Linked DNA regions of Homo sapiens. The protein of the gene in region 2 purifies or fractionates together with the protein of the main gene of each other region. This does not show direct contact. Each region holds a gene or a part of one and is shown on either strand. Other genes may lie near its edges. The genes, in order: DNAJB12 and SLC22A7.

The links.
Region 1: the proteins of SLC22A7 (region 2) and DNAJB12 purify together in Homo sapiens (affinity purification with mass spectrometry; one large-scale study listed by BioGRID and IntAct). This does not show direct contact.

What each region holds. Positions count from the first base shown.
Region 1 is NC_000010.11:72,341,146-72,344,962, forward strand, and holds part of DNAJB12 (dnaJ homolog subfamily B member 12), read right to left. Parts: coding exon 3,805-3,817; intron 2,367-3,804; coding exon 2,221-2,366; intron 26-2,220; coding exon 1-25. UniProt on the Homo sapiens protein: Acts as a co-chaperone with HSPA8/Hsc70; required to promote protein folding and trafficking, prevent aggregation of client proteins, and promote unfolded proteins to endoplasmic reticulum-associated degradation (ERAD) pathway.
Region 2 is NC_000006.12:43,303,493-43,306,199, reverse strand, and holds the end of SLC22A7 (solute carrier family 22 member 7), read right to left. Parts: exon of another isoform or gene 2,169-2,707; intron 2,163-2,168; coding exon 1,956-2,162; intron 1,530-1,955; coding exon 1,475-1,529; 3' UTR 978-1,474; coding exon of another isoform or gene 947-977; 3' UTR 662-946; downstream 1-661. Other genes in the region: CRIP3 (cysteine-rich protein 3), read left to right, coding at 76-133, 325-386.

The DNA.
Region 1 (3,817 bases), on a different chromosome or scaffold from region 2:
AGTACCGCATATGCTGTGCCAATGGCTGGAGAGGAGGAGGAAAGGTCAGGCCTGAGGATCCTGGGGTGCGGGGGGAGGCTCCCATGGCAGCCGAGTGCTCACTTTTCTCAGGTACTCAAGCAGTGCTTTAGGAAGCAGACGTCCTTGGGGTGGGCAGGAAGCTTGGCCAGTGTAAGGAGGGGGCATGCAGGAAGACCCCTCAGTGGATCTGGGCAGCCTGGCTGGGTGGAGGGTAACACAGGCTCCTTGTTCTCCTCAAGACAATGGTCAAGCTTTGTCAATGTGCCAGGCCTCCTAGGAGTGTGGCCTCATTTACTTCTTTTTGTTTGTTTATTTTATTTTTTGAGGCAGGGCCTCACTCTGTCACCCAAGCTGAGTGCAGTGGAGCAACCGTGGCTCACTGCAGTCTCAACTTCCTTTGCTCAAGCGATCCTCCCACCTCAGCCTCCTGAGTAGCTGGGACTACAGGCGTGAACCACCACACTCAGCTAATTTTTTGTATTTTTTGTAGAGATGAGGTCTTGCCAAGTTGCCCAGGCTGGTCTCAAACTCCTGGGCTCAAGGGATCCTCCCACCTTGGCCTCCCAAAGTGCTGGGATTATAGACATAAGCCACCACACCAGGTCAACTCATTTACCTCTAAGAGCAACCCTATCTCCATTTCACCAATGAGAAAACTGAGGCTCAGAGAAGTGACTGCCTAAGCTTACACAGCTTTAATATGTTACAGAGCTGGGAGTCAAACAAAAGCAGGTGTCTCTTGCTTCAAGTTCTCTCTCCGACTTTATGAAAACCACCAAAAACCTCTTTCCTCATTCTCTCTTGACGTGCCCAATAGGATGGGCATCCCTTTCTGGAGGTTCTGTAAACCTGAAGTCATAGTCTGACATGCAGGCCAGACAGACACACAATATCCTTATTGTGAACTGGAAAGCAGCAGGAGCTGTGGGGAAGGGCCAAATCTCGGGGCTCTATGGAGACTCCTCCACTTCTGGTGATGCAGCTGGGGTGAGTCCCCCACTCTCTGGGGTCCAGGCCCCAACCGTTATTTCCTATCTGGGCCTGGAGCCTCCCACCAGGGCCCCCTAGCCGGGACGGCTGTGCCCTGAAGGACCCCAGCTCTGACCTCCTCAGTCTCTCACTCCCTCTCCTCAAGCTGCCACTGACTCCGAGGAGTGGGTCCAAGCCACATCTGATTCCCATCCTGAAACCCCCGGGAATAAGGAGCGCGGAATCGTCTCCTCCGCCAATTCTGAATAGGCCTCAAGGCCAGAGCTGGCCTCTCGGTACAGTCGGAGCAGGCTGCAGGCAGAGGCTGGGGCTGGAGAAACATTCAACAGGGCTACCTTGCTTCCCCCCACTCCCACTCTCCTCCTCCAGGGCCCCGGGACACTGCACACCAGGTCTCGGAGTCTCCTCTGCCACAGGCTCTCCAGCTGGCTATGGTTGTGGGTGCAGCACAGCACACACCCCGCCCAGGCCAGTGGGGGCTAGTCACCATGCTATTTCCCAAGGAGGTGGATGAAGTGGGAATGAGAGAAGGAAGACATGGTGGGAATGAGAGAAGGCAGTAATGTTTGGGGCAATGAGAAATTGCAGTGCACAGAGTCAGTACACATGAGCGCCTGACAGGTTAAATGAAAATGTAATGAATAAAGGGCAGCTTACGATTTCAGCCAGAAATGAAGCACCCATCCTGAGCCAGTGGGCCCTGAAGCCAGAGACTGCCATGTCCCCACTGCAAGCCCCAGGTGTATAGGTATGGCGGGGGAGCTGGCTGTGGCTGCTGGTATTGAGGTGGCCACCAGGCCTGAGGCCCCCGACCTGGGGCTACCCTGCCCCTCAGCAGGGAAACAGTTACCCCAGTGGGCAGCTATGAGACTCTAAGACAGGGAAGCGCACACGGTGAGTCACTCAATCACTGAGAATCCTTGGAGAAGCTACTAGAACTTTCCTGCCTCAGCTCTACTACGTAACCCCAGGAAATGCAGAGGAAGCAGGGGCAGGAATGGTGCTATCTGAGCTCTGACCAACTCTACATAGCTAGAGGTGGCTACTAGAACCTTTTTCCCAAGAAGCAGCTCCCAAGCCTGGGCAACTTGGGCCCAAGGCCACTTCCTCCTGCTCCCTGCTTCCTGGGAAAGCTGTCTTGGTCCCTTACTCCCTGCCATGGACAGGAGATGAACACACCAAAATGCTAGGAAAGCAGGGCTGGCTTACCTTTGAAGGCTTCAGTGGCACCAGGTGCGTGGTTCTTGTCTGGGTGGAATTTGAGGGCCAGTCTGCGGTAGGCCTTCTTCAGGTCCTCATCCGAGGCCCCTCTGCTCACCCCCAGGATCTCATAGTAATCTTTACATTGCTTGACCCTGGGGAAGGAGGAGACCATGGTACGGGGTGCTCTACATGGGTCTGTGTGAGGGGGGCGATGAACAGGCCGTGTGGGGCGCACAGCTCTGGGCAGGCTGCGGGGGACCAACAGGGCAAGGCTGACAGCTCCTTGGGTCAGCTGTGTGACACCAGGGACAAGGGAGCCAAGTGGGCACCAAATGTGATGCAGAGCTGGGCAGGACCACGGGAAACAGAAGAACACCGTCTGGATTCTTGGATTTAGGAGGGCATCTGTGGGGTTCGCCAGGCCAGTATCTATCTTCCCCATGGGAAGAGCTCAGGAGGACTGTCGGTGTCCATCACCCAGGGTGGTGTCCCAAGCTCAGCCAACCGACTCTCCTGGCAATCTGAGTCTTTTTTTTTTTTTAATTTTTAAAAGTTTTTAAAATGTTAAATATTTAAAGATAGAGACAGGGTCTTCTAATTGCCCAGGCTGGTCTCAAACTCCTGGGCTCAAGGGATCCTCCTGTCTCAGCCCCCCAAAGTGCTAGGATGACAGGCATGAGCCACCATGCTCAGCCCAATCTGAGTCTTGAGTGGGTAACATGAAGGCCAGAAGTGGCAGGTGACTGTTCACCGCAAGCACAGGGCCTAAAGAGACCCTGGTTCTCTTTCACCAATTCTTCCTCTCCGCGTCCCTGGAGACCTCCTGGTTCTTGGCCGTTTCTAGGCCTTCCCAATCCCTCATACATCAGTTTCTATTGCCTACAATGGACCTTGCCGACTCAGTGAAGTACAGATCTCGCCTACACTTTTATGGCAAACAGCAGTCATGCTCAGTCTCACACAGGCGGCCTTGGTCCTGAAGCTTGCCAGGAGCTGTGGCATGACCCTGGGGGATTCCCAAGGCCAGCTGCTGGGAGACCTGGGGAGAAATGGGAGCTGGGAACGTCTAAGCCTGAGGAGCCTTGGCTGGGTGGTCTCTGGCCTGGTAGCGAGCTACTCTGCGTGGGGCCTGCTCACAGCCGTGGGGCAATAACTCTGCCTCTGGTCTCCATTCTACCCCACACAGGCTCTGATCTAAAAGGGTCTTTGTTGGGTGCTGGGATGTGGGTTGGGGTAGAATCTGGAGGGGGAGACAAAGCTCCATCTCTATTGACAAACAGAGCTGTGTAAAGAGGCCTGGGGCCTGCCTGGCCAGCGGCAGAGGAAGCCGGCAGTGTCAGCTTTTCCAGCCTCTGCTGTGGGTCGTGGCGGGAGGGGTGGTGGAGCCCCAGTTCCCACACTGTATTCCTGGGCCTTGAGGGAAATAAGGAGAGGTCCTGGTGAGCCTGGACCCTTGGACCTTCTCCATCCTCCAAGACCCTCCCAGGGCCCTGTGCTGCCCACAGGCAGATGGGAGGTGGAGGACATGCTCCAGGAAGCCTCTAGATTTCCCCAGTCTCCCCAGGCTCCAGCCCCTGCCCACCCATCTACCTTTTCACAGCTG
Region 2 (2,707 bases):
GTGGTTATGTTGGGAGGAGGCTGGAGATGGGAAGAGAACCAGGCTGAGACAGCTCTCTTTCTCTCTGTGTCTCAGCATGATGGAGTCCCCTACTGCCACGTCCCCTGCTACGGCTACCTGTTTGGCCCCAAAGGTGGGCAGCCCCATCCCAGACACTGGGATGGCATGTACATGCCTGAAGTATGGCATGTACATGGTCTGTGGGTATGTGTGGACAACTTCCCCTGTGGTTAAGCATACCCTGGCCCCCCCACCAAGTTCCCTCTAGGCCTGAACCCTGCACCACAGACCCAGGGCCTTTGGTGATAGGGCTCTCTCTCTCAGGTGTGAACATTGGCGATGTGGGCTGCTACATCTATGACCCAGTGAAGATAAAATTCAAATGAGACGCTCACAAAAAAGGTCACCCTAACTCAGGCCTCCCATCATGCCCCTCATGGTCCAATGGAAGCTACAAAAATCTCCAGTCCCATGGGGGTTGGGGAAGGTGGGATCTTGGGGGCCTGGGCCTAGGCTCCATGGTAGGCCAGAGAGTCTAGACTTTCTCTGCCAATTTTTTCCCTTTCCCATTTCTATCTGGTTAGGGAACAGCCCGTTTTGAAGGGTATCCTCCTCCTGGCCATCACAACCCCTTTCCCCAGCACATTCTGGAGCTTCAAGGTACTCATAAAACTTGTGTTTATTGAATTTCAGCCTCTGTGGCTTCTTCAATAAAATGTTGGCTCCCATGCCTTCAACTCTTCTTTGGGCATGAGACCAGTGGGTTGGAGGATGGGGAGTGTGGGGGTTGGGATGACATGCATTGCCCTGCAGGGTGCCTCGGAGGTAGCAGGGCCAGCCATGAGAACAAAAAGCTCTGTTCTTTTTGTCCCTTGGGCCTGGCATTGGCAGTCCTAGCACCACACAGTGGACAGCATGCCCACCAGCCCCATTGGTACCAGAAGTCTCATATGCTAGTCCTTTCTTTAGCACCATCTCTAGAAGAAGCAGAAGCACCTTATTCAGTAACTCATTTGAGCATGGCAACAGATCCTATGGTAGGGCCTCCCAAGAGGCTTCATTATCCATTTGGGAGATGAACAGACTGAGGCCCAGAGAGGGAAAGCCACATGCCCAAGGTCACACAGCAAGTTAATGGTGAAGGTTTTATCAGAGCCCAGGGCAGACTCAGTGGCTTCCTATCCAGGGCTCTTCCCACAGCTCGTCACCACTGCCCCAACCCAAGGGGCACCTTTATTTACAGAATCCTCCCCAACCGTGAGAGGGGTGCCCAGCAGCCCACTGCATTCTGGGAAGTCAACTGTTCCTAGAAGCCAAATAATCAAGGATGGATGAGCAGAGGGAGCGGGTACTGGCAGCAACTCCGGCCCTAGGCAGAGGGTTCGATACTCCCAGCCTGAGTTGCAGGGCCTGCCCTTCTGCTCTCCCAGCCCCTGCTGCAGAGCTTCTGTGGAGGGCCTGCCTCCACTCCCACTTAGTTCTGGACCTGCTTCATGGGCATCTCTTCCTCCTGAAGACTGGTTGGGGCACTAGGGAGGAAGGAGTTGTGAGCAATGGTGGGGTTTAATCCCCGAGCCTACCACCCCAGCCTGCCCCATCAGGGCTGTCCCAGGGCTCACCCCAGTTCCTGGTATACAAACGCCTGTACAAGTGACTCACACACATGCTTGTACACACCCCTGATGTGTAGGCATACTTGAGTGTGCACACATACACATCTTCCTGAACAACCTTATGTATTTGTGTTCATACACTCATGTACACATTTATGCTTGCAGTTTACATGCCCCCAATCATGCACCCTGAAACACTCACCTGTGCACGCACACATACATGCACCAAGTACACATGTGCAGATATAGTTTCCTGTCTGAATCCTAAGGTGTCAGGTATCTGAGCACCTGCATCCATATGCATGTTATCACACGTACACAGACACAGTCCTGTGCACACACCTCTTTCTCTCCACGTCCTGGATGGTCTCTGGCAGCTGTGCCTGCCTCGTCTCTGGCAGCAGGAGGGCGGTGCCGGCAGCCAGCAGGGCGATCCCCCCATAAGTAAGCTTGGGCAGTGACAGCCACACTCCATCCAGCAAGGCCGCCAGTGGGGCCAAAGAGCCCCCCAGCCGGCCCACCAGTGCAGTCAGCCCCATCCCTGTCTGTCTGTTCAGAGAAAGAGGATGAGGGAGGCAGATGGTGTTCACACCTACCTGGAGTCATGCCCCACAGGGCTTCCCTCCAGGGCTGGCAGGCCCTGATACTCCCTTCTCCCCATATAGCTAAGAAAACTAGGACTTCTTTCAGTTGGTCTTCCCACCCACCTTCAGGCCAGGAGACCTCAAGCCAGCACCCACCAGAGGACAGGGCCCCCATTCTGACAGAGTACCAATTAGGTATCACTAAAGGAGAAGACAAGTCACCAGACTGGGAGATAAGGAAAGGGTGATGTGGAAGGAAGAAGGTCAGTAGTTTGTACAGGCCCTGCCATGTTGTTCGAGGAGGCAAACCTCTTTCTAAACATGACCAGATGCCTAGAATTTTCCTCTTCCCACCTCTCAGTAGCTAGCTGAAAGACCCCCCCAACCCCGGGCCTTTCAAGGGGTTGCTCTTGGGACAGTCCTCAAGGGCATCTCTGCCTTCCAGGGGTGAATGGGATGGGGGTGGGCAGGATGGGGCTTCTTGGGGCTGTTTTCTTCTTCTTATTATTA